Homo sapiens: one gene and its partners. The protein of the gene in region 1 interacts with the protein of each later gene in a pairwise test. Each region holds a gene or a part of one and is shown in the gene's direction. Other genes may lie near its edges.

Region 1 (7,028 bases):
AAGGGCTTGGTGAGAAGCCTCTTTCATATTTGATATTTTCCCTGCAAATACTTTGAAACTTTAGGATGTCTTTCCAGTAAAGTTTTAACTGCTTTAGGGTTGGGGAGGGCATGATTCCATTTTTATATAATAATTTTAAAATAATGTTGCTGAAATTTGGCAGTTAAATTGCATTTGAAAAAGGAAACATTTTTTATTCTTATGGAGTAAGGAGAGCAGAAGTCTTCCTTACTGGACTGAGCTTCATGATTCCTCACTTTTGTGGCACAATGCCTGTCACCCAGGCACTTGGAAAATGCTTGTTGAATTGAAAGCTCAGGCCTCTCCAGAATACACTTGATTGATAAGTCAAGTAAATAGACATCAGGGTTTTAATGAATGTTTTTAGTGAATGTTTACTTATGCCTAGCACAATGAGGGAATGATGGATGGATTTTAGCTTTATTTTAGTAAGTCTTTAGTTTACTCATTTTGGGCTAAAGCTTTTATGATGATATCTGGATTAATGTGGTCAAATAAAGTATGAGCATTTGCAACCTGAATGATGGTTTACATGGCTAGATTTACCAAGCAGTAGACCATTCTGTGTATTATCTGAAAATGTATGAATCAGTCTTTCTTGTCCAAGTTTTTCAGAGATTTAAGAATCTTTTGGAAAATAATTCTGAAAATAATTTGATTTTGTATGTCCATGCCAAAGCCCTAGATTATGGGGACTGGTGATGTATATCTAAGGGATGTGTGTATGTTATGTAAGCATGAGAATGAATCTTTTTAAAAAGTCATTTCTTAGAAATTTTGCCTATAATAGTTTACTTTTAAATCTTAATCTCTCACCCCCCAAAACTCCCATTTTCCCACAATATTTTCTCTAGGAGCTTGTACCTCCAGGCCCATACATCCTTCCAAAGCTCCCAACTACCCTACAGAGGGAAACCACCGAGTAGAATTCAACGTTAACTACACCCAAGACCTGGACAAAGTCATGTCTGCAGTGAAAGGAATTGACGGTGTTTCTGTCACTTCTTTTTCTGCTAGGTACAATTTATTTTTCTCTTTTTTTTGTGTGTATTTATTGGTAAGCATCTTCCTTACAAAGTCTATAACCCTGGTATTTAGGCTTGAAACAAATAGTTTTCTCTGGAGTTGATTTACAAAGTAGCATACTCCTCATTTGTTTGTGGGTCCTGGAGAACTATGGAATTTTTTCAAAACAATAAAAACGGTAAGTAACACTAAGTATTTTCTATGTCAGGGGACTATACTATGCATTTTACCTACAGTATTTCTAATCCTGGTAATGTTCAAAGATAGTTGTTTTTACTTTAGAGAATACAGATAGATCCTAGTGATGTGGTGATAAGGCTTTTATTGGTTCCCAGCAAATCAGTGATTCCCAAGTGCTTTTTTATATTTATCTTTACATTTTAAATATATATTTTCATAAATCAGTCTTTTTATTTAACATCATGGGAAATATTTTTCTGAATAGTCTTTTTTTGTTTGTTTTAAGAGACTCCCAGGCTGGGCACGGTGGCTCACACCTGTAATCCCAGCACTTTGGGAGGCCAAGGCTGGTGGATCACCTGAGGTCAGGAGTTTGAGACCAGCCTGACTAACATGGAGAAACCTCGTCTCTACTAAAAATACAAAATTAGCTGGGCGTAGTGGCGCATGCCTGTAATCCCAGCTACTCAGGAGGCTGAGGCAGGAGAATCACTTGAACCCGAGAGGCGGAGGTTGCAGTGAGCCGAGATCGCGCCACTGCACTCCAGCCTGGGAGACAGAGAGAGACTCTGTCTCAAAAAAAAAAAAAAAAAATGCAGATTTTTGTATTCACCTCAGACCTTATAATTAGAATGGAGTTTGCCTGAGAATCTGTCCAGGACATTCTCAAATTCAATGATGTTTTAAAATTATCATCTCTAAGGCTTTAAAAAAATTCATTTTGCCCCAGCCCCATTTGTAGATGTTCTGTTCACTGGTTCTGTGGAAGGATCCAGCAGCTGTTATTTTAAGAAGCTAGAAGGAATTTTTTTTATTTTTTTGAGACAGAGTCTCACTCTGTTGCCCAGGTTGGAGTGCAGTGGTGTGATCTTGGCTCACTGTAACCTCCGCCTCCCAGGTCCAAGTGATTCTCCTGCCTCAGCCTCCCCAGTAGCTGGGACTACAGGCACCCGCCCCCCACCACGCCCGGCTAATTTTTTTTGTATTTTTGGTGGAGATGGGGTTTCATCATGTTGGACAGGCTGGTCTTGAACTCCTGATCTCAGGTAATCCACCTACCTTGGCCTCCCAAAATGCTGGGATTACAGGTGTGAGCCACTGTGCCTGGCCTTCTTTTTTTTTTTTTTTTTAACTTTAATTTTTTAATAATTAAAAAAATAATAAGATAGGGTCCTGCTATGTTGCCCAGGCTGGTGTTGAACTCCTGGGCTCAAGTGACCCGCCCACCTTGGCCTCCCAGAATGCTGAGATTACAGATGTGAGCCACTGCACCTGGCCAAGAAATTTCTGATGCACAATCGGGATTGAGAACAGTTCTTGAACAGTGGTTTCAAAGTGAGGTCCTTGGACCAGCAACATCAGCATCACCTGGAACTTGTTAGAAAGGTAACCTCTCAGACCCCCACCTAGATATAATGAATCAGAAACTCCAGGGGTGGGGCCCAGCACTCTGTGTTTTAATAATCCTCCAGGTGATTCTGATGCCCAGTAGAGTTAGAGAAATGCTATTCTAGAAAATGGATTAGTTTCAGATTAAATGGGTTCTGTTGGTTAAATCCTTGGTTCCACATAAATCTAATCTATTATAGTAGGTTTGTAAACTGTGGATTATCTAAAATACATTTTGGCTATATTTGTCCTAAATGGAGTGATTTTTCCCCCCTAGGACTGGTAATGAGGAACAAACACGGATTAATCTGAATTGTACTCAGAAGGCTTTGATGCAGGTGGTAGATTTTCTTTCCCGGAACAAACAACTTTATCAGAAGACGGAAATTCTGTCACTGGAGAAGGTAATAAGAATATTTTGTATTTGATCTTAAAATACTGTGCACACATTTTCTAACAGTATAATTGAGGTATAATTGATATACTTAGGTATATTGAGGTATACCTTATTGAGGTATAATTGATATACTAAGAATTGTACATATTTGATGTGTACAATTTGATGAATATCATTACTTTGCATTTTTCTTCAGCAAATTCATTTGTAAATTATTAGATCAACAGGCCATTCACTGTTATCTAAAGTACAAAATGGCAATGAGAGCATAATATTCTCTAGGAAGTAATTGAGAAAGGGAGACATTCCAGGAACAGGAAAATATTGGTACGTCTTCAGGGTTACAGATTTGGTTACAGGTTTGCTGTCTCCTTATTTTACACGCTCTGCCTGGACCATGTCATTCACTTCTTTAACTTGATAGCCATTTGTATGATGATTTCTATCTTTACTTTTTGGCTTAGAATGCTTTCTTAAGGGAAAAAATGACAAGAACCCATATTTTCATCTACTTTCTGGATGTTTTGCACTTACAGAGCCCACAAGTATTTCAAATTCAGTATATCCAAATACTTTATCCGTTTGCCACCCCCGCTTTTTTTTTTTTCCATATTTCATATTTCAGTATCATTATCTACTTTAGTTTCCAAGTTTTCACATTCCTCCTTGACTCCAGGCCCTGCTGAGTCTGGCCTCATATCTATACAGTGTTTCTCCTCTGTATTGGCTCTGCCACCACAGTAGTTGAAACTCTCATTTTCTGCGATGAGAGTAGTCTCACCGAGCACCTAGGAGGCAGTCCAGGCTCTTTAGCATGGTGTTGGAAGCCCTTAATGATCTGCTACAGCCTGGGCCTCCAGCCTCCTCTCCTTCCACAGCATGTACTCTGCACAGTAGCCATACTGTCTTCTTTTGGATCTGCCCCCATAGTGTGTTCTCTCAAGTTTTTGGCACCTTTGTCCATGTCCTCTGTGTTTAGAATGCCTTTCTCCATCTCATCGTACCTCTGTCCTGCCACACTGCACTTGACATCACCCCTTTTTAAACTCTTTATTTCCCCCTTTTTAACTCTTTTAGGGTTTTCTCTAAGACCTAAGTCCTTCCTCCAAGTACTCCCCAAGCCTCCTAAGTCACAGCTCATTTAGTTTGTCATTCTTTGTGCTGCTGCAACTGTAGCACCTACCTTGTATTTAAACAGTTTTATTATTTTGTTTATTTGAGACAGGGTCTGGCTCTGTCCCCAGGCTAGAGTGCAGTGGTACAATCTCAGCTCACCACAACCTCTGTCTCCTGGGTAGCTCAAGCCCACCTCCCATTCAGCCTCCCAAGTAGCTGGGACTGCAGGCGCACGCCACTGCCTGGCTAATTTTTGGATTTTTTTGTGGAGATGAGGTCTCACTATGTTGCCCAGGCTGGTCTCAAACTCCCGAGCTCAAACAATCCACCCACCACAGCCTCCCAAAGTGCTAGGATTATAGGCATGAGCCATCGCGCCTGGCCTGATTATTGATTTAAACATCTGCCTTCCTAGAAAACTGTGAACTCCTAGAAGAATGATTTTGTCAGGTTTGTATCCCCACATTTAGCCTGGAGCTTGCTATAGTAATCTCACAGTGTGCATGTTGATGATTTTAGCATTTGTTGTTTTAGGACTAACAATGCACACCGTTTCTAACTTCTGTTTCTCCTCAGCCTTTGCTTCTACATACTGGAATGGGACGGTTATGCACACTGGATGAATCTGTCTCCCTGGCAACCATGATTGATCGAATAAAAAGACACCTAAAACTATCTCATATTCGCTTAGCCCTTGGGGTGGGGAGAACCTTAGGTAAATATAGCTCCTTCATCTATCCAGTATGCCTACTGTTAACATTGGACAAAGATCGAAACTCTTGGTTGTATTAATATGTGATAGAGAATGTGTTAGCAGCTCATAGGAGATAATTGGTTTACGTTATTGATTAGGGTGGGCCAGGTTCTGATGTGGAATACATCTCATTGACTTAATCAATGAGATTTATTTCTCTGTCATGCTATGTGTTCATTTCAAGTTGGTCATTGTAGGAAGTCTGACCATTGTAGACTGGTTGCTGTTGCAGAGGGAGGGAGTTTTGCAGGGTCTTAAACCATCAGTTTAAAATTCCAGGAAACATGTTAATTTCTGCTCAACTCATTTTCCAGAATTAGTCATGTTGCCCAATACAAGCAAGGGAGGCATAAAGTGCAGTCTTACCATGTGTCAGGAAGAGAGCTGGAATCATGATTGCTACAATTACAACATAAACTTTGCACTTATAAGACTGGTAATATTTTCTAGTGAGGTGCTACTGAGTGATCTGATCCATTGTAGTTTCTAAGTCTTGTAGTTTTTTCTTCTGGCCTTTCCTGGTACTTTTGAGAACAAAAAGAGTGAACAGACATTTGTTCAACACCTTCAGTGAGCCTAGCACTGTACTGATTGTCTGTCCTAAGTACGTGAGCTCCTGCTGGCAAAAGCAGTGGGGTACAGCGGTTATAGGTGTGGATTCTGAGCTTAGACAACCTGGCTTCAGATTTGTCTGTCCTGTTTGCTGCATGTCTTTGACAAGTTTATGCCCTCTGTGTCACAGTAGCCTCATCTGTAAAAACTGCATTAATAAAACCTAACTCAGAAGGTGGTAGTATAATCCATGTGACATGGCACAGTGATTGGCTCACATTAAGTATAAAGTGCTAGCTGTTGTTAGTTTTGTGGTTGGTACTATTTCTCCCATTTTATAGGTGAACAATTGTGGTTCAGAGAGATAAGTAACTTTATTAGTTCGTTCTCACGCTGCTATGAAGAAATACCTGAGACTAGGTAATTTATAAAGAAAAGAGGTTTAATTGACTCACAGTTCTGCATGGCTGGGGAGGCCACAGGAAACTTACAATCATGTTGGAAGGCACCTCTTCTCAGGGTGGCAGGAGAGAGAATGAGTGCAAGCAAGAGAAATGCCAGATGCTTATGAAACCATCAGATCTCGTGAGACTCACGCATTATCACAAGAACAGCATGGGGGAACTGCCCCCATGATCCAATTACCTCCACCTGGTCCCGCCCTTGACCCGTGGGAATTATGGGGATTATATTCAAGGTGAGATTTGGATGGGGACACAGAGCCAAACCATATCAGTAACTTATCTAAAAGTCCAGTTAGATCAAACAACCCAAGGGAGTTAGTGTCCAAAGAAAATGGATAGCAGAGGTGGGATTTGACTTCCAAAATAACTCCAAAGCCCCCTCTTTGAGATACCCTGCTGCTGAACTGGAGTGTCCACTAAAGTGTTCATTTTAGAAACCCAAGTGCTAAATACTTGGATTTTGGCTCGAAAGTTGCTGTTATTTCACTTTCCAGAGGATGCTTTTTGAGAATAAATAGTATATTTAAAAATAGTGCCAAATCCATTTGTAGCATTCCTCTTTTTATAGTCCTTTTAGTTCCTTAGCTTCCTCACCTGAGAATAGAGATAGTACTTGCTTACCTCTCACTGTTGTCTGAAGACCCAGGTGAGATTATTTTACCTAGCACTGTTGCAATACAGCCTAGAGCTGCACCATTAGTACTATTCAGTGGTTTGTGAGTTTGTGCAGCCATGTCCAAAGGAATAACGGTGCCCCCTTCAGCAGCACATATACTAAAAATTGGATGATATAGATTAGCATGGCCCCTATGCAAAGATTACACGCAAATTTGTGCATTGTTCCGTATTTTGCGCAATTTACAAAGGTTGTTGAAAAAAAAAAACACAACAAAGGAATAATAACCATGCCTTGGGTTAGCTATGCAATATCAAAGAATGACCTGTTTGCTTATATTAAAACATGTTTTTTTTAAAATGCAGTAAGAACAATTCATATACTGGTGATGAGACCAGGAGTGAAATCTGTATTATGTTTAGGATTCTTGGTACAAATTATAATAGTAAAATGAAAGGGAATTGTAAAGTATTGGTCTCTTGTTTCCTCTGTTTTGAAGAGTCTCAAGTCAAA
Region 2 (7,028 bases), on another chromosome or scaffold:
ACCAGACATTGGCATTTCTTGACCTTTTTTCCTGTCTTACCTGGATCTTGCAATAAAGGATGCCTGGTTTAACTTTCTTGAAAATCACATTAGGGAAGGCTTTGAATGAAATTGATCTGGAACAATAAGTGATGATTTGGAAAAACAATTGCTATACTTCTATGTACCCTGCTGCAGCTCTCCCCATGTCTCCACCTCTAGAGGTGGGGTTCAGGGATTTGCATAACTAAAAAATTTATGAAAGTGTTGTCCTACCTTTCTCAGGAACACCATTTGTGAATTATTTTCCCAAAAACGAGGTAGAAATTAGAAATCTAGAGAAGTAACTATTAGTACATGAGGTCATATTAGTGTTTTCTTGTTGGGTTTTTTTTTGTTTATTTGGTTTTTTATCTTATGGTTTTTTATTTATTTGATTTCTTTCTTTACGAGACCTCTTGTGGCGGTGGGGGGCGGGGAATGTTCATTTTTTTTTAAACCTATTTGACCAGCATTGTTTCCTTGAAGAAAACCTAGATTTCAGATACAGATGTTTATGTTTTGATTTATCTTAATTGCTCTGGTTTGGTTTTTGGGTTTGGTCAGCACTAACGTACTAATGTGGTTAAAATGAGTCCTTTGTTTTGGGAGGCCAAGGCGGGTGGATCACTTCAGGTCAGGAGTTCAAGACCAGCCTGGTCAACATGGCGAAACTCTGTCTCTACTAAAAATACAAAAATTAGCTGGGACTGGTGGCAGAGGCTTGTAATCCCAGCTACTCAGGAGGCTGAGGCAAGAGAATCACTTGAACCCCGGAGGCAAAGGTTACTGTGAGCCGAGATCAGGCCTTTGCACTCCAGCCTGGGCAACAAGTGAAACTCCGTCTCAAAAACAAAACAAAACAAAAATGAGTCCTTGGTAACTAGAATATTCGGTTCCCAGGGTTACAGTATCTAGATAGTAAATAATTCAGGGAAGTTAGTGGTAAGAGATTTCTTGATCATTTCTACTGAGAATTTTATTTAACAAGCATTCCTTATGAAAAATAATATCTATGAAAAATTTCCTTCATGAGGAACGAAAACTTTCATTTAATGAATGACAAGGGTATAGTTTTAAAATAAAGGGCAAAAATCAAAGGTTGGTAAACGTGTGATCTCAGCTCTGGAAACCCCATTATGCTTATGTCAACGGTGATGTCTGAGTGTTGAGGTTTGGGAAAGGTGAGTTTCCTTGACTTTTCAAAAAATTTTAGATTTTCGTATGGTCCACCATAGACAAATGAGTTTAATCAAAAGTCATAGCTTTTTTTTTTTTTTTTTTTTTTGCGACAGAGTCTCCGTCTATTGCCCAGGATGGAGTGCAGTGGCACAATTTTGGCTCACTGCAACCTCCGCCTCCTGAGTTCAAGCTATTCTCCTGCCTCAGCCTCCTGAGTGGCTGGGACTACAGGCATATGCCACCACGCCCAGCTAGTTTCTGTATTTTTAGTAGAGACAGCATTTCACCATATTGGCCAGGCTGGTCTCGAACTCCTGACCTAGTGATCCGCCCACCTCGGCCTCCCAAAGTGCTGAGATTACAGGTGTGAGCCACCATGCCCAGCCAACTTTTATCTTTAAGTAACTTGTGATGTTTCAATTGCAAAATCCTATGCCTTTGTGACTTCAAGTGACCCCTTTCATAATCCATAAGTGTTTAATGAATGTCTACCATATACCTAGCCTTGACATGGAAACATTTTTAATACAAATGTCTATTTTTATTTTCCTTTTGTTTGGTGTAGAGAAAAAATAGCCAGTTCACAATATTTTATAAAATAGTTATGAAGAGAATGTCAGTATACTCTACACATATCTTGTTTCATCTTATCAAGTAACACTACCAACAATGTATAGAATTTCTTCAAACTGAGTTTTATTTGGCTTGTTTGGGGATTTTTTTTTTTTTTTTTTTTTTTTTTTGGCTAAAAAGTAGGTCCTGAAAGGAGGACCTCCAGAATGTGCTTTGTGTCATTGTGTCGAGTCTTTCTTTTGAAGGTTTAATATTTAACTATTTATTTAATATAAGCTTTTCTTTTGCTGTTAGACTGCTTTTCAGGAAGCCTTGGACGCTGCAGGTGATAAACTTGTAGTAGTTGACTTCTCAGCCACGTGGTGTGGGCCTTGCAAAATGATCAAGCCTTTCTTTCATGTGAGTATTAAACAATGTCTGCTTTGTAAGAGATTTGTGTTTTTTGAGTTGGTGGTCACAGTGGTAGGAAAGAAAGACAGTTAAAGGATTTTGGTTTCGGTGGGGGGATTTCTTTGGCTGGATCTTTGGTCTAAAAGTAGTAGTATAACAAATAATTTAGGTTTGATACATGTAGCCCATTGAAAACAAATTTTAGAAGTTAATTTTGTCTTAAATAGTTCTTTTTTTCCCCACATTGAAACATGGGCCTTATTTGAAATCCCAGCCTCAGAATTTGATATGCCAAGCTGTTTTATACTAAGAAAAATTTGATTTAGAGAAAATTTATGTCTCTTAGATCTATGTCTCCAAAGATCTAAATTTTTGGATCTTTAATTAGTCTCTACTTTTATTAAGTTTCCATTTAAGAAGCTTGGGTATGTTGATTGCCATTACCTAGTTCTAAATCTTTTTGGATTTTTCATTTTAAATTTTCCAGTCCCTCTCTGAAAAGTATTCCAACGTGATATTCCTTGAAGTAGATGTGGATGACTGTCAGGTATGTAGCTGGAAATATGAGATACTGCTGAGCTTTTCACATTGGCCTTTTTCTCTGAATTGCACAGTGCTTTTTTCCATAAATATGTCAAATAATTCTAGAACTGTAATCCTATCTAAAAAGTTCTATCTCAGAAGAGCAGGCAAGTTAGGAGCTTAATCCTAGCTATCGGGAGCTGTATATCACATCCTAAAGTAAACAAAAATAAATGAGTGAGACTTCTGAATCTTATCGGCCACCCACCTTTCTAAAACCCTACATTCTACTTTACACTCTGAGATGTGCAATAAATGGAGATTGAATTTAGCTATGATCATTACATCCATAGGCTTGATGGAGTCACCAAATTATGAGACCGCTTGTAGGGCTCTTTGTGAACTTGCAGTAGCATGAGAACCTGCATTTGCAAGCCTATTCTAGTCTTGGTTGATTTTAGTCAATTAGAAACCACAAATGTTTTAACAAATAAACACCAAGGTACCTGAGAGAATAATTTGGAAGAAATTCCAGGGTTGGTTGTATTTAACAAATACTTGTTTTGCACTAGGTATATACCAGGCACTGTTCTGGGTGGTTTTTAAGTATCAGTTCATTTAATCCTGAGTGCTGTTATCATCCCCATTTTATAGATGAGAAAACTGAAACACAGAGGTTGTTCATGAAGTTTCAGTGAGTATGTGGCTGAACTAGGATTTAAAATGAAGTGGTCTGGCTTCCCAGCCCTTGACCTTAAGCACTACCCATCGGAGGATGCTCTGTCTTGTGGGTGTAGATCGGGTGCTTAGCACATGACCACAGACCTAGGAGAGCGGGTTGAGGAGGTATCACTTCGGGGCCCTTTACAGATATGTGAGCATTTTCACTTAGCCCTAGTGGAGAAGGAAAGGCGATGGGGGAAGGGTGCAGTGTGGCAACAGAGGCGCTGGACCTGGCTTCCAGTCCTGGCTCACTAGCATCTGCTTAGGCCAGTCACTCCTCTTCCTTGAGCCTTAAGACCTGCCCCATCAACCTCCCAAGGTTGCTTATTCATTGAGCAAACATGGAATATCCAATAAAGGGTGAAGGGTCACTTAAAACAGGCATATGGCAGTGCTCTCTAAACATGGGAGGGCGCAACAACCCCAGATTGTGTATTCTTAGCCAGTTTTTGACTCTGTGCCTTGGGCAACCCCTGCCTTGGCTTGTGCTGTCTTCTCCATCTGGCCTGTCCTTTCCTTTCCTACCTGACTAACTCCTTGTCATGAGCTTCACCCCTTCTCCACTTACCGCCTTGTGTGCCCTAAGTACCCAGTGAATCTTGGCAATTATTATAATGATCTTTATGTCTGTCCTTTACCATTAGTCTCAGTAGATTCCTAGGATCAGAGACCCTGTCTTAATTCACGTTGGTTGCCCCTTCACCTAGCACACCTGCCTTGCATGTAGTATAGGTGTGGAATGAATGAATGATGAATGTGATATGGTTGTTAAGTTACTATTCTAGATGTGTCCCAGAGTTGTTTTTTTTTTTTTAAAAAGAGTGTAATTGCATTTTTGTGAAAAATCCTTATCCCTTGTTTTAATCAAACTTAGTCTTATTAAGGTCAATTTAGCTAGGGGAAAATTGCACCTGGAATAGAGAAATTCTAACTGCCACTGATCCTATCAGATAGCAACTTGATTTTTTTTTTTTTTTTTTTTTTTTTTTTTTTTTTGAGATGGAGTTCACTCTGTCACCTGGGGTGGAGTGCAGTGGCATGATCTCGGCTCACTGCAACCTCTGCCTCCCGGGTTTAAGCAATCCTCTGTCTCAGCCTCCTGGGTAGCTGGGATTACAGGCATGCACCACCATGCCTGGCTAATTTTGTATTTTTACAAAATTAAAACCCCAGTAGAGACGGGGTTTCACCATGTTGGTCAGGCTGGTCTCGAACTCCTGACTTCAGGTGATCCACCCACCTCGGCCTCCCAAAGTGCTGGGATTATCCACCACGCCCGGCCTTGATTTTTATTTGAAAGCAATAATAGGTGCCAGATGCCATGATAAGCCCTTTGCATGCACTATGTCATTTAATCCTCACGATAACTATACGAGTATTTTTTATTAGCACCCTCATTGAACAGGTAATGGCACTGCAGCACAGAAGGTAAAGTCAGTCTCTTGAGGCAGACCAATGCACCATACTGTACTGAGGACAGGTCTTCTTACTGCCTTTAGGAAGTACAGTCATGCATCACTTAATGATGAGGATACTTTCTGAGAAATGTTAGGCAATTTTGTTGTGCACACATAGAGTGTACTTACACAACCTAGATGGCATAGCCTCCTGTACACCTAGGCTATGTGGTAAAGCCTGTTGCTCCTAGGCCACAAACAGGTAAGGCATGTTACTGTACTGAATACTGTAGGCAGTTATAACACAACAGTAAGTATTTGTGTATCTAAACATAGAAAAGGTATGGTGAAAACATGATATGAAAGATTAAAAAATGGTATGCCTTTATAAGGTACTTGCCATAAACGGGACTTGCAGGACTGAGAGGTGCTCTGGGCGAGTCAGTGAGTGGGTGGTGAGTGAATGTGAAGGCCTAGAACCTGTAGACGTTATAAACACTGTATGCTTACAAATTTTATTTTTAAAATTTCTTTTTTCAGCAATAAATTTATTGTAACTTTTTTACTTTATAGTTTTTTTATTTTTTTAACTCTTTAACTCTTGTAATAACACTTAGCTTAAAACACGAATGCATTGTACAGCTCTACAAAAATATTTTCTTTATATCCTTAGTCTATAAGCTTTTTTTAAAAAGACTTTTTAAACTTTTTGTTACAAACTAAGATTCAAACACATACATTAGCCTAGACCAACACAGGGTCAGGATCATCAGTATCACTGTCTCCCATCCCCACATCTTGTCTCACAGAAAGGTCTTCAGGGACAGTAACATGCATGGACCTTTCATCTCCTATGATAACAGTGCCTTCTCCTGGAATGCTTCCTGAAGGGCCTGCCTGAGCCTGTTGTATAGTAACTGTCTTTTTAAAAAAATAAGTAGGAGTACACTCTAAATTAATAATGAAATTAAAGTAAATACAAAAACCAGTAACGTGGGTGTTTATTATCAAGTAGTATATACTGTCCATAATTGTAGTGATATGCTTTTTTAAGTGAAAGCAAGTTTATTAAGAAAGTAAAGGAACAAAAGAATGGCTATTCCGCAGGTAAAGCAGTCTGTAGTGGTATACTTTGTATGTAATTGCAGCGCAGATTTGTTTGCACCAGCTAATGCGATGGGCTATGACATTAACCCATCACTAGGTGAGAGGAATTTTTCAACTTCATTATAATCTTATGGGACCACCACATATATGCAATCTGTTGTCGATCTAAATGTTATATGGTGCATTACTATAGGTGTGCAAAGCACTCGAGGACTTCCGTATGACAGAGCTCCTCCTTCATGTCTGCTTGGTGCACCCTGATCACCCTGAATGTATCTTTTTTTTTTTTTTTTTTGAGACAGAGTCTCACTCTGTCACCCAGGCTGGAGTGCAGTGGTACCATCTCTGCTCACTGCAACCTCCACCTCCCGGGTTCAAGCGATTCTTCTGCCTCAGCCTCCTGAGTAGCTGGGACTACAGGCAGCCGCTACCACACCAGGCTAAATTTCAACTTTTTAGTAGAGACAGCATTTTGCCATGTTGGCCAGGCTGGTCTCGAACTCCTCACCTCAAGTGATCCACCCGTCTTGGCCTCCCAAAGTGCTGGGATTAGAGGCATGAGCTACCGTGCCTGGCCTGAAAGTGTCTTTTAAAACCTTGAAGTGACCCTCTGACAAACTGAGGAACTTTAACTTTGCCTCCATAGATTGATAGAAAAGTATGAGTAGTAGCCCTTTTGAAAATGATAGACCAACCTTATTTCTCTGACAGCCAACAGGGTTATGATACTTATTTTATAAATGGTAACCTCCCTCTGACCCTTACTTGGAGTGAGTTTTCAATAGTATGCATTCAATAAACATTCACCATTTTTATTCCAGCCATTACTGTCCTTGTGCCTCTTACTGGAACCTGTACTTTCATGCTCAGCAGGTGTCCAGCATTAAAAGAAAAAGTAAAGATTACCTAGAAAGAACTCCTCAACAGTAGTGCCACCCACCATCCTAGAGGTCGTCATAGTGTTTGTAGCTGGCCTTTCTTCCCCTTGAGAATTCTCCGTTGGTTTCCGTGATTTGGTTATCAACAGTCCTGCCTGCTCGCTTGCTGTCCTGTGTAGCTTTTGCTGCTTAGGTGCTGAGTGGTTCTATATTTCTTTCCCAGTCCTCTTTTGAGTGC
Region 3 (6,621 bases), on another chromosome or scaffold:
TTGAATCCTAATCCCCATGTGGGAGGTGATTAGACCATGAAGGCTCTGTCCTCATGAATGGGGTTGGTGCCCTTATAACAGAAACCCAAGAGAACTGTCTTGCTGCTTCTATTGCATGAGAAGGCACCACCTATGAAGGAGAGCAAGCCCTCACCAGACACTGAATCTGCTGGTACCTTGATCTGGGACTTCCTAGCTTCTGGAACCATTAGGAAATAAATTCCTGTTGTTTATAAGCCTCCCTGTTTATGGTAATTTGTTATAGCAGCCCAGCAGACTAAGAAAGGGGAAAGAGTCCTCTTTGTCATAGGAAAAAGTCCAAGAGAGACCAGATGCAAGCTTCCAGTTGTTCTCCTCAACTGGAGTTATACGAGCAGTGCCTAATTCTCCTTGCAAGGATGTGTGACAACACACTTAGGGTATTGCCACCCAAGAAGACTCACCTGAGCCTTGGTGTCCAGCATAGTTAGAGGACGTTGGTCATATAGTCATGGCTGACCATCTGGGTAGCTGAGCCTCCTTGCAGAGGTAGCTTGCAGAGGTCCAGCTAATGTTGAGTGGCCCAAGGTCCTCACCATAAATCACAGTTAGCACAGACAAGCTGGCATGGCTCAGGCAGGAAGCTGCAGGTGCTTGAGGAAGGACACTATCTATAGAAACCATGAGTAGCCTCCAAGGTGGGCTGAGGGGTAGGCAGGGCACCAACAGCCCCAGCTACACTCCCTCAGGGACAGTCTTGCCATTTCCCGTTTTTCATTCTTATAAACAATGCCCTGGTGCAGGGGTCAGCAAACTTTTCTATAAGGAGTCAGATAATCTTTTTTTTTTTTTTGTATTCCCTTTTGGCAATTTGTTTAATTGAGATAAAATTCACATAACTTAAAACTCACCCTTTTGGTGTATACGATTCAGTGCTTTTTAGTATATTTTCAAGATTGTGCAACCAACACCACTATCTAATTCCAGAACATTTTTATCACCCCAAAAAGGAGCCCTGTGCCAATTAGCTATCACACCCCATTCCCTCTTTCCTCTATCCTTGATAACCACTAATGGTAATTTCTGTCTCTAAAGATCTGCCTATTCTGGACATTTCATATAAATGGATCATAATATATGACCTTAAAAACTTGGTACATAGGCCAGCCATGGTGACTTATGCCTGTAATCCCAGCATTTTGGAAGGCCGAGGTGGGCAGATCACCTGAGGTCAGGAGTTCAAGACCAGCCTGCCCAATGTGGCAAAACCCTGTCTCTACTAAAAATACAAAAATTAGCCAGGCATGGTGGTGGGCACCTGTACCCAGCTACTTGGGAGTCTGAGGCAGGAGAATCACTTGAGCCCGGGAGGCAGAGGTTGCAGTGAGCCGAGATCACGCCACTGCATCCCAGCCTGGGTGACAACAGTGAAATTACAACTCAAAAAAAAAAAAAAAAAAGAAAAGAAAAAAAAAACTTGGACATAAATGTTTACAGTAGCATTATCCATAATAATAGTCAAAATGTGGAAACAACCCAAATGTCCATCATCTGATGAACAGATAAGCAAAACATGGCATATCCATACAATGGAACGTTAGCTGGCCATAAAAAGTAGCACTACAACATGGATGAACCAGACAGATAGCAGATATGTGAGGCTTTGAGAGCCACATGGCCTCCAAATTATTCAGCTGCTGTGGTCTGAATAGTTGTCCCCCACCCTGCCAAATTTGTATGTTGAATTCCTAACCCACAAAGTGATGGCATTAGGAGGCGGGACCTTTGGGAGATGATTAGGTCATGAAGGTTGGAGCCCTCATAATTGGGATTAGTGCCCTTATAGAAGATGCCCCAGAGAACTAGCCTGTCCCTTCCACCATGTGGGGACTCAGTGAGAAGATACCACCTATGAGGAAGCAGCTTCTCACCAGACACCGAATTTGCCAGTGGCTTGATCTTGAACTTCCCAGCCTCCAGAACTGTGAGCAATAAGTTTTTGTTGTTTATAAGCCACCCAGTTTATGGCATTTTGTTACAGCGGCCTGAATGGACTAAGACATCAACTCTGCCCTTTTTGCACAAAAGCAGCATTATGTAAACAAATGGGTTTGACTGTGTTCCAATAAAACTTTATTTACAAAAACAGGTAGTAGTCCATATTTGACTGGGAGGCTCTAGTTTGCCCATTCCTGCTATATAAAATATCCTTGTATGTGTATTTTTGTCCATTTGTGCAGAAAATTCTATGGGATCAATTCCTAGAAGTGAAATTGCTGAGTCATGAGTTATGACATATTTATTTTGAACAGATGCTGTGAACCACCCCAAAATTTGAACCAACTTGCTTTTCCACCAGCGGCACATGAGAGTACGTGAGACTGAGATTTCCCCCACCTTTTTTTTTTTTTGAGACAAGCAAGGTCACTTTGCTACCCAGGCTAGAGCCAGTGCAGTGGCACCATCACTGCAGCCTTGACTTCCCTGGACTCAGGTGATCCTCCCACCTCAGCCTCCTGAGTAGCTGGGACTACAGGCACACACCACTATGTCTGGCTGATTTTTTGTATTTTTTAGTAAAGGCAGGGTTTTTCCATGTTGCCCAGACTAGTCTCAGACTCCTGGGCTCAAGCGATCCACCTGCCTCAGCCTCCCAAAGTGCTGGGATTACAGATGCGAGCCACCGTGCCCAGTCAGAATTTCCTTTCTTAAAGCCCTTTCACAAAGAAGTAGAACCCATACCCATTTAGAAGGGAAGTTTCTGCATTGTCATTCTTGAGCTTTGGAGAGGAAGAAGAAGATAGAACATTTTGCCCCCAAAGAAGAAAACTAAATGGGGCCTGAAGTGGTCTCATAATAGTATCTTATTTTAGATTTGAGGCTCACAGGGAAGGGGACTCTGGTAACTTGTCCTCATTTGGTGAGATCAAACCTTACACTGCCCACTAAGTGTCATTCCTAAAAGCCTTGAGTGTTACCTGTTCAATTATTTTTTCAAATGCAGAGAGCTCCTTAGCAATTTCATTTATTAAGCAAAGCTTCCATTCCTATTATTTCTCTTTGTAAGTAATTTGCATGTAAATGAGGTCCACCTATGCATACTGAGCATGTTACCAAATGTACAAAAAATATACATGGTCCAATTTTTCTCCACAGAGCTGACAGGTACCCATCCCTCTTGCTGAAGATGACATAGTATTTCACGTAGCCTAGTTTTCCCTAAGTCTTTTTGGCTTTTGGACGATGGATGGAGTTTTTGTTTTTATTTTTCCATTTTTCTTTTTTCTCCCTCATTTTCATCATTTGGAATTCGTGGTGTGAAACCCACAGGGGAGAACAGAGGCTCATTAGCATTCAAGCTCTGTTTTTGGCAGCATATTTTAGTTGCTTTATATGATATTCAGCATCCCTCCTGGGATCTAGCCTGCCTTTGCTCGGCTCACGCTGGGTGAATCTGTGATATTTCCCATTCTGTAGCCCTTCATTTATAACACAGGCATAGCCTGCTTTCCCATTAGTGAGATGGCATGCCTGGACTACCCACACACAGATCAAGAATTAGGCGGAACTTGGCCGGGAAGATAAATCAAGTTAACCGTCTCATTAGGCTTGAAAGACACAAATTAAGCTGAAGTTGGGATTAACAGAGAAGCCTTTCAAAGAGACATGCAGCACAACAAGGGGTGGAAGAAGTTGCCGTAGCCATTACTCTCAGAAAATTTCCAGCATTTGATGGAACAGAGGAAACATGAAGTCTCTTTTATAAAAGGTCAACAGACAGAAATTTAGGCTCAAAATAGCAGTATAACATTTGTTGAGCTCTTACCACCTGCTTGGCACTGTGTGCTGAGAGCTTTACACACATTATTTCATAGAAATTGCACATTGACCTATGAGAGAAGCACTACTAAAATTCCTGTTTAACTAATAAAGAAACTGAGGCTCAGAGAGGTTACTTCGCCTGCCTCAGAGACACAGAGCTTGGTCAAATGATAGAGCCAGGATTCACTCCCAGGATATTTGGTCCCATGGCCCATGGCTTAACCTAGTGGTTCCCGTTTGGGATGCATTGGCCTCCGCAGGGGCCATTTGGCCATGTCCGAAGACATTTGGGGTTGTCACAGCTGTAGAGAGAGCTGCTACCAGCTTCTAGTACGTAGGTACCCGGGATGCTGCTAAACTTCCTACAGTCCACAGGACAGTTACGGCAAAGGATTATCCCGCCCATAATGTCAACAGTTCCATGATTGAGAAACCCTGGTTTAATCGCTCAACTGGACTACATTGACAGGCTCACTGTTCCACTAGAACTATCCACTTACAGAGCTCTATATGCAGTGTGGTGATGCCGTGGGACATACGTTTAAGGCTGCATATTGCAGGCGGTGCAGCTGTCTGGCAGAAGGAACAGCCAATGCCAAGGCTGAGAGGTAAGAATCTGGCTGGCATGGGATGGCAGGAAACCAGGTGCAGCTGTTGCAGAGACTCACAGGAGGATGAGATGAGGGAGTTGGACTTCTCACCAAGAAAAGGAAAAAGACAGCGTGCCCTAAACGATGACCCCCATGTTTGCAGTTGACAAATGTGTAGACTAATGGCCTCTTGTCTTCTCCCTGCCTTCCTGTTCTGTTCCCCTCCTTCCTCTTGCCTCCCTCCTGCCCTCAACCCTCTGGCTCCCTAGTTTTCGGCCACAACATGAAGAGCAGCAATGACTTCATCGGGAGGATCGTCATTGGCCAGTACTCTTCAGGCCCCTCTGAGACCAACCACTGGAGGCGCATGCTCAACACGCACCGCACAGCCGTGGAGCAGTGGCATAGCCTGAGGTCCCGAGCTGAGTGTGACCGCGTGTCTCCTGCCTCCCTGGAGGTGACCTGAGGGCTGCAGGGAAGGCAGCTTTCATTTGTTTAAAAAAAAAAAAAAAAGACGGAAAAAAATGTGTCACATACTATTACATCCACACCTGCATACACACTCGCAACATGTCTACACACGTCCACACACACAGACACACAGATACCCCAAATCCTCTCAGAACTGAGAGGAAGCTGACTATTGATCACAAAATGGCCGCCCTCAGTTGAGTGAGGCCTAGGAACTTTCCGGAAGCCCCATCCATAGATCACAAGCTCAGTGGGCTCTGCCGTGGGACTTATTGGCAGTGCCTGCTCTTGTCAATACTCCTGCCCCAAAATGCACTTTCAACCCTCAGGCCAGAGAAAGGACCTCCCAAAGGGTGCCAAGCTCCATCAAGACTAAATTTACCAAGAGTTTGGCCAGTGTGTGGGAGACTTGAACACCCCCCACTTCCGAAACACACACCTACTGGGTAACTTCTGAACAGGCTGCTGTTCCCTGGGGTTCTTCAAACCTGATACCTTTCTCCAAAGGTGTAAGTATCTTTGTCTTCTCCGTAGTAAATGTGATAACTAGATTATGGGCCATTTGGAGAAACCAAATGGCAACCAAAACTATTCCAGTGTCAGAAGCCTTTCCTGGCTTAACAGAATTGTTCTTGTGTTAGCTCATCCCAGGGAACGCCCTGTGGGTATGTATGTGTATGTCCTCGTGCATGTGCCCTCACAGGCGAACACGTGTGTGCCTATGTGTCCTCTTGGAGAGCATGGCGATGGGCCAGGACCTCAGCCCTGAGCACTGCCTTCTCTCTGCCTCTCCTGTCCAGTGAGAGTCCAACCAGTGTCCTCCTGTCTGTCAGAGATCCCACTTTGGATAAAAGTAGTGTGTGTGTGTGTGTGTGTGTGTGTGTGTGTGTGTAAAGTAAATAGGATATGATAGAGCAAAAGTAACATTTTTTGACCGAATCATGGTGATTGTGACCCACGAAAGACATACAAAGACTTGATATATGGATTAAAATGGCTATCACACCCCATCCATGATGATCTTCTTCCTTAATCATACTCTGAGGATCTTTCTGTGTTTTTCTGTGAACGAATGTCACGTCTCTCGTGCTAAGGAATTAGTGTAGTTAGAATAGATCTCTCTCTCTCTCTCTTTCTCTCTCTCTCTTTCCTCTCTCTCTGTTGGATGCTTCTGTATCTTTTTCCACAGCATAATGTCTGGTGTGATGGGGAGCTATTTATTGAAATTAAAGATTATTTATTTGTGCCATGCATTCGAGTTATCTTTTTCTTCATGAACACAGGACATAGAAGGTGGGAGGGCATTGCAGCTAGTACTGCTGTGTAACAAACCATACTGAACAAGTCAAAACAATGATTTTTTTTTTTTTGAGACAAAGTCTCACTCTGTTGTCCAGGCTGGAGGGTAGTGGTGCAGTCTCTGCTCACTGCAACCTCTGCCTCCTGCATTCAAGCAATTCTCCTGCCTCAGCCTCCCGAGTGGCTGGGATTACAGGTGTGCACCACCACCCCTGGCTAATTTTTGTATTTTTAGTAGAGACAGAGTTTCACCATGTTGGCCAGGCTGGAATTGAACTCCTGGCCTCAAGTGATCCACCTGCCTCAGCCTCAGCCTCCCAAAGTGCTGGAATTACAGGCATGAGCCACTGCACCCAGCTTCAAAACAATGATATTTATTATACTGATAGATTTTGGGGGTCAAGAATGTTGAGTATTTGCAATATGTCTGTCTGACTTGAGCAGTGTACTAATGCCAATT
Region 4 (7,490 bases), on another chromosome or scaffold:
TTCACCATGTTGGCCAGGATGGTCTCGAACTCCTGACCTCGTGATCCGCCTGCCTTGGCCTCCTGAAGTGCTGGGATTCCATGCGTGAGCTACTGCAACTGGCCTAAAACAATTTTTTTAAAGGAACAACCTGTTTATCGGTCTGCCTCTCCCAAGCACTGTTGCTTTCCACAGCAGAGACTTAGTCACCTTTCTATCTGTGTGCTTAGCACAGTGCACACTATTTTTCCCTTAATGCATTTTTCACAATTCTGCTTATATAGTTCTTTGTATAAAATCTATCTTTCCTACTAGACTGTAAGCTCTGTGACAGCTATGAAATAACCAACTCTTTCTCTGCTGGTAAATGGAAACTAGAAAATGGAAACTAGTACAACCAAATATTTCCATGAGCTTTAAATATTTATCAATAGCCTTAAAATTGTCCACAGCCTTTCAATCAATGATTATAAATCCAGAAATCTACCCTAAGAAAAGTGATCCTCAGCCGGGTGCAGTGGCTCATGCTTGTAATCCCAGCACTTTGGGAGGCCAATGTGAGAGGATTGCTTGAGCCCAGGAGTTCAAGACCAGCCTTGGCAACGTAGCGAGACCCCATCTCTATTTTTTTATTATAAATAAATAAAAGTAATCCTAAAAAACAAACAATGCAAAAAGATGCTGACACTAATTAGTAATGTCCAATAACAGGGAATTTGTTAATAATACATTCAATGGAATATTATGCAATCATTTAAAATTATGCTTAAGACATGGAAAAATGCTTATTAGGTGACTGAAAAGTAGGATCAGAAATAAACAGATATGCGGCCAGGTGTGGTGGCTCACACCTGTAAACCCAGCACTTTGGGAGGCCGAGGTGGGCAGATCACGAGGTCAGGAGATCAAGACCATCCTGGCCAACATGGTGAAACCCTGTCTCTACAAAAAATACAAAAATTAGCTGGATGTGGTGGCATGTGCCTGTAATCCCAGCTACTCAGGAGGCTGAGTCAGGAGAATCGCTTGAACGAGGGAGTCAGAGGTTGCAGTGAACTGAGATCACGCTACTGCACTCCAGGCTGGTGACAGAGTGAGACTCTGCCTCAAAAAAAAAAAAAAGAAAGAAAGAAGTAGATATGCAAAAATATATACAACTTTTGCCTTTTATTTTTGCTAATCAATGCTTTGAATAAAGATGGGAACTTTGGTTTTTTATTTTTTGGTTCATAATCCTACAGATTTTTTTTCTTTCCAGTAAATCTATACTAAACCCCTTTAGGTTAATGCAAATCCACACACTGCAGAATTAGTATCTTTCAGAATATTCCCTCTGCTGAGGCAAGAAACACAGTATTTGAAATGTCTATATAAACTAGAAGTGTAAGAAAAAAAGCATGACAAGATTGATGGAACTAGAATACTGAGAAAAAAAGAGAAAGTTTGGCGAATGTAAGAGGTGTTTTACTAGTCATTCATTCTACAAATAAGTATTGAGCTCCAGCTAAATGCACTCTCTTAAGTTAGTACTGGTTCCCTCTTATTACCTGACTAATGAATTACTCATGGGTGTCAGCCTCTAAATGCCATGTTCCCCACTTACCCACAAACTGAATAAGATGTCCCTCCCATGTGTTCCTATGGTACCCCGTATTCCTTCTTGTAACTGGAGGTGAATAATGTAAGACCCTAGGTTAAAATTTTAATCGACTCTTTACAAACAGCAGTCATTTTAAACCTTTATGTAGCCAGGGGAAGAGCCACTAAGAGGTACAGGTCTCAGCAATAGGCTACAAGTACCTTATTCTTAAAGGGAAATTATTTGAAATTGGAGATAAAGAAATGGAACACTGCTGGATGCAGTGGCTCACGCCTGTAAGCCCAGCACTCTGGGAGGCTGAGATGGGAGGATCACTTGAGCCCAGAAGTTTGAGACCAGGGCAACATGGTGAAATCACATCTCTACAAAAAAAATACCAAAAAATTAGCTGGGTGTGGTGGCTTGTGCCTGTAGTGCCAGCTACTCAGGAGGCTGAGGTGGGAGGATCGCTTGAGCCCGGGAGATTGAGGCTGCTGTGAGCCAAGATCTTACTTACCACTGTACTCTAGCCTGGGTGACAGAGGGAGACCCTGACTCAAAAACAAAAAGCAAAACAAAACAAACAAATATTTTTAAGGGGAATTCTACCCAGTGAAATTTGTACGTGATGAGCCTTCATTCTTTAGTTCTCTACTAAAGCATTTCTCAAATTCAAGCTCTTGAAATTTCAAGAATATGTATCAGCAAGCATCACTTTGTAGAAGCCCAACTATACGCGCTGGAATCCTGTGCCTCTATTTGGTTATAAGGTGACTGTCCACGGAGGGGCAGTAAAGTGTAATAGTTTAAAATTCAGGTCTTAACTATAATCCCACTGCCTATTTTTTTATTTCTAAAAATATCATAAAAAGACACAAAATTTTAAAATTGTGTAGAGAAATTGTGGACTTCCTGAAGGATTTGAAAAATTAGGCAAGCTATATTATCCAGTTAATAATTGACACAAAAGCTCTGGTTTGCCATGTTCTATATTGTGGATAGGAAAGTACCATTTTGCCATGCAGGATATATTTTTTTAAATATAAGCATACTTAACAATCTTTCATGGCTTCTGAGTTTTGTAGCATACTTAAAAAGATGTTTCTTATTACAAAGTAATTTTAAATATCCCATATTTTCTTCTAGTACTTTTATTATTTTATTGTTCAGATTTAATTTTTTGATCTGTCTGGAATTTATTTTGGTATAATGTGTAAAGTGTGGTTCCAATTTTATTTTTCTTCCAGATGGTTACCTAGTTGTTCTAACACTATTCACTGAATTCATCATTTCTCCACTGATGTGAAATGCCACCTTCATGATATTCAGAGTTTTTGTATGATACGAAAGACAATTTTTTTGGTTCCGATTTTAGTGGAAAGTCTTCATGTGCACTTTTTAACTGTCCTAGAGTTTGTTGTTGTTTTAAATATCTTAAAAGTTGTCTCTAACCATCGATATGATACCCAGATAAGATTTTTCTCCTCCCTTCATGAATTTGTCATTACCCAGCTCATTTTAGTTTTTTTAAGTGTACTGCACACAACCTTCAAATATTATGAACATTTCTCTCTCCCAGCTGTCACTACACCAAACTACATATGTTATATTTCCCTAAATCATCTTGCTGTGCTCTTTGCAGCTCTTCTGTAGACTGTTGATGTCTTCACCTAACGAGTTGCTCAAAAGTTCCCATAATTATTTAGGTGAGGCCTCAGAGCGAAAGCCTTTCACCACTATCCAGTTCCTCCCCCAAATGGGCATTCATCTCCATATAACAAGGACGACTGTGTTTGGGGGAAAATAACAGATTTGGAAGCACAATGGCAGTTATTTGTTGGCTCTTAAAACAATCCACCTGTTGGGGGGGTGCGTCCTACACAAAATGCCAACTGCTATTGTGGGAATGTTTTGCTATTTATTCCACCAAAATGATTCAGACAGAAAAAACAAAAAGGATCGCCCTGTACTAGGTCTTGAACCCAAAGAACTGTTTGCACAGAGATTCATCCAAGATACATCACAGCCTCCACCTCGGCAGCTGCTCTCTCAAATGTTTCCTGACTCTCCCCAAGTCAGTCTCCGCGTGAGGGGAGGAGGAGGATGCTGCCAGCGATGGCGCTGCTGGCACGAAGGCTGGCCTGCGACTTCTATTTAAAAGCTGAACCAAAATATACTTGGCGTCTGTGGTCTATTTAAAACTTCAAGTTAAGACAGAGAAAAAATTACTCTCCATCCTGAATGGGCCTCGGGTGTCTCAATCACAGACAAGAGTGGCAAATGGTGAGAGTCAGAAAGTGGGAAATTAGGAACGCTGAGGGAGCACGGCCAAACTCTGAAGCCAGCATGAAAACCTGGAGGTGAAAAGAGAAGCCATGGGCAGCGGGGGCGGGGGGAAACGGGCCCGGATTCGACCTTCTAAGCCAAGGCTCCATCTGCAACCCTCGCGACCAAGACCTATCGCCAAAGTCAGCCACCTCTGCTCATCGCCCCTCCCCCGACTCAAGGCTACCTCCTCAGAACCCCGCCTCAGGGTCTTCTCCCGGACTTTAGCGAGGTGCTCAGCTCGAGGGACGCCCCAGCTCAACGGTCTCCCTTCAAGGCCCCGCTCCTCAGCGCGCTCCTTCCACAGCGCCCCTCCCTCCCTCCCTCCGTCATCCCAGCTCGCCACCCGCTGGGGCTCCTCTTCGTTTTCCGCGCCTCAGCCCTCGCCCCGCCCCCTCGCCCTGAGCCCCCTCCAGGCCACGCCCTCTGGTCCCCCCACCTGTGAGCCCGCTCGTTCCCCGCCCTTCGGTCTTCGCCCCGCCCCCATTGCTCCCCGCCCCTCGTCGCCCTCTGTAGGCCTGCTCCCTCCCCGCCCTTCCACCCTCACCCTGCGCCCCGCCCCGGCCCCTTGGTCCTCGCCCCGCCCTCCTCGTTTGGCGCCAAACCCTGTGGTCAACGGCGCGCGGGTCTCCAGGCTCCGTGTTCTAGGCCCGAGTTAGAATCCTGTCAGCTGAGGAGGTCGGGCGGGGCAGAGGGGCTTCACCTTGAAAATCTCGGGGAGACTGTGGGTACGAGGGGGGTAAGTGGCAAAAACGAACAGCGTGCGAAGACTCTGAGGGGACGCTCGTTTTGAGAAGGCGCGCTTCCCTTTCTCGCTCCTTTTTTGGGGTCCCTGGGCTAGTGACTTTGAGCGTTCCGCTCCGACCTTTGGGGAGGAATTTTAGTGATCTTGAGGGATTTCCAACCTCATTTTCAATCGAATCGGACCTGAGTCTAGGAGAGCCCGCCTCATCCTCCTGACCAGGGAATCCGGTGTCAGGAAAATGTCCGGCGGCCGCAGGGGGTCTGCCCAGGCCTCCTGCTGAGGGAGGCGTCGAGGGCGACCCGACCGCGCTGCTGCCCCCACCAGAGGGGACAGCTGGGTCGTCTTAAACCGGGGGATTGGGGAGCCCTACTTTCAATCCAACGGTTCAGTCTATCAACGGCTCCTTGAGAGATGGGGGACAATCTTTTCATTTCATCACGGGGAGAAGAAATGAATGCTGTTTTTCTCTTCGATGGGGACAGTAAATGTGGAATTGGGGTACTCATAGCTAGCCATCTGAAGGACAGTGTCCCCGAAGATCCCATCCGAACGGTCTCGGTTGCCTTCCATCCTTTGCCGTTTGAGGTGCTGGGTGGTAGGACCCTGCTCCTGCCTTAGTATTAATGGTTCGTTCCCTTTGTTCTAGGGTCCAACCCCTGACTTTGGTATCAAATGAGGAAATGGAATCGACCAAGAAAAATGATGATTTGGACCGCATTTTATTGTAATAAATAAACACAATCACGCCTTGTGGATTCCTGAGATTTCTTTTTGAGTCTACAATGTTAAAAACTTTAACTGCTTATCAGCCTTAATATAATATTATGATCCACCAATTTTTTTTTTTTTTTTTGAGACTGAGTCTCGCACTGTCGCCCAGGCTGGAGTGCAGTGGCATGATCTCGGCTCAGTGCAACCTCCGCCTCCCAGGTTCAAGCGATTCTCCTGCCTCAGCCTCCCAAGTAGGTGGGATTACGGGCGCCCACCACCACGCCCGGCTAATTTTTTTGTATTTTTAGTAGAGACGGGGATTGGCCAGGCTGGTCTCGAACTCCTGACCTCGTGATCTGCCTGTCTCGGCCTCCCAAAGTGCTGGGATTACAGGCATGAGCCTCCACACCCGGACCACCATATTTTTAAATCTTAAAAAAATCATGAAACTAGTAAATACTGTGAAAGAAAGTATAGCTAATGTTCTATGAAACAAAAAGGTGGATGTTACAGGAGTACCCATTCATAATCAGCAGGCAGGAAGGCATTCATCATAGATGAGAAAAATAGAATCCATTTATTGAGGACAAAGTTGGAGGTGTCAGGGAGGACACAAGGAAGAATGATATAATGTCAAGGTTCCTAGAGTATTGTTGTTAAACATAAACAAGAAAGGTTAAAAGCAATATGCAATTCTAAATAACATTCAAGGCAGTAATAAAGTCATGATTAGCTGTGCAATGGAAACCAGATGATAAGTGATCACTGTTGGGGAAAGAGAAGAAACTAAATAAGCACCCCCCAATTTGCCCCTCAGGCATCTGTGTGCATGTGGGGACACACACACACATGCACACACACACACACACACACAAGAAATAATGTCACATGTCTCGCAGAAAGAAGATAGGCTGGCCTCATCTTTCCAAGCTAAATGCTTCTCTTACTGTCCTTCTAGTCCTTGTTGACTTTGAAATGAAATCAGAGGCCCCTGGACAAAGGACTACTTCTTACATAATATTTCTTATTTTCCCAGAAGTGATTATTTTTCTGTTGCCCACTTTTCAATATGAAGGAGGATCAAGTTGTGGCGGAAGAACCAGGATTCCAAGATGAAGAGGTATGACTAAAATGTTGAAAGATATATAGACATTCGATCATTCCGCAAAAATCAAGTTCCTTCCCTGTTAGCTACTATTTTTAGAAGCTGAAAGTAGAAATAACACATAGTTATATATTGCAAATATGTAACAACTTGTTTGGCAAGGATGCTAAGATTAGCTACTTAGCAACTGGTATGAAAGTATTTTAATGACTTAACAGCTGGTATGGCCATACTGGTACCTACACACACGGGTACCGAATAGCAGCCTGGTCCTAGAGGAAGGAGTTTAGGATCTGGAGGGGAAGAGGGTTGAGAAAACATATTTAAAATAGTTCAAATGTTGTTCCAGTCCTTTGGGTAAAGGTTTTAAAATTTTAGGGAGGACATGACAAAGGTAACTGGCTTCCCAGCCCTTTCAATGTTGGTGCTTCTTCTGTGTTTGAAAAACGGTATTGATCCTTCCTCAATCTCTAGAGAAGCGGAATTTGAGGCATTTTGGAGTGACTCATAGTATTGAATTACCTCTTTAAAAGATGTGAAATAGCTGGATATGAAGAATCAAAACTTCATTTTTTCTGTTTCATCTCCTTTAGGAATCTTTGTTTCAAGATATTGACCTGTTACAGAAACATGGAATTGTAAGTAGTTTTTCAATGCTGTGTTAAATTGTCTGATTCAGGATTTCTCAGCATCAACCTTATGGACATTTGGGCCTGGATAATTCTTTGTTGCAAGGGGACGTCCTGTGCATTGTAGGGTGTTTGCAACATCCTTGGCCTCTACTCACTCACTGCATGTCAGTAGCACCCCTGCAGCTGTGACAATCAAAATGTCTCCAGACATTGTCAAGTGTATCCAGAGGACAAAATTAAGTTCTATATGTCAGGCGACTGGAATAAATGATGTTGGCAGAAATCCAGCCTTTGAATAATGACCTGGGTGGATTTCAACAGCAATCAGTTGATAGTAAAACTGTGCTGACATTATCTGTTGTAGCCCTAACATTTAATCTCTTTCAGTGGTTTTAGAAAATAGAAGCAAGAGAA

The links.
Region 2: the proteins of NIF3L1 (region 1) and TXN interact in binary tests that used the Homo sapiens proteins (3 or more experiments, as listed by UniProt).
Region 3: the proteins of NIF3L1 (region 1) and SYT17 interact in binary tests that used the Homo sapiens proteins (3 or more experiments, as listed by UniProt).
Region 4: the proteins of NIF3L1 (region 1) and DMC1 interact in binary tests that used the Homo sapiens proteins (3 or more experiments, as listed by UniProt).

Annotation. Positions count from the first base shown.
Region 1 is NC_000002.12:200,892,371-200,899,398, forward strand, and holds part of NIF3L1 (NIF3-like protein 1), read left to right. Parts: coding exon 1-9; intron 10-875; coding exon 876-1,038; intron 1,039-2,893; coding exon 2,894-3,020; intron 3,021-4,705; coding exon 4,706-4,844; intron 4,845-7,014; coding exon 7,015-7,028. UniProt on the Homo sapiens protein: May function as a transcriptional corepressor through its interaction with COPS2, negatively regulating the expression of genes involved in neuronal differentiation.
Region 2 is NC_000009.12:110,246,502-110,253,529, reverse strand, and holds part of TXN (thioredoxin), read left to right. Parts: intron 1-2,067; coding exon 2,068-2,172; intron 2,173-2,650; coding exon 2,651-2,710; intron 2,711-7,028. UniProt on the Homo sapiens protein: Participates in various redox reactions through the reversible oxidation of its active center dithiol to a disulfide and catalyzes dithiol-disulfide exchange reactions.
Region 3 is NC_000016.10:19,262,220-19,268,840, forward strand, and holds the end of SYT17 (synaptotagmin-17), read left to right. Parts: intron 1-4,660; coding exon 4,661-4,857; 3' UTR 4,858-6,113; downstream 6,114-6,621. UniProt on the Homo sapiens protein: Plays a role in dendrite formation by melanocytes.
Region 4 is NC_000022.11:38,567,175-38,574,664, reverse strand, and holds the start of DMC1 (meiotic recombination protein DMC1/LIM15 homolog), read left to right. Parts: upstream 1-4,481; 5' UTR 4,482-4,622; intron 4,623-5,274; exon of another isoform or gene 5,275-5,590; intron 5,591-6,255; exon of another isoform or gene 6,256-6,375; 5' UTR 6,376-6,408; coding exon 6,409-6,459; intron 6,460-7,037; coding exon 7,038-7,082; intron 7,083-7,490. UniProt on the Homo sapiens protein: Participates in meiotic recombination, specifically in homologous strand assimilation, which is required for the resolution of meiotic double-strand breaks.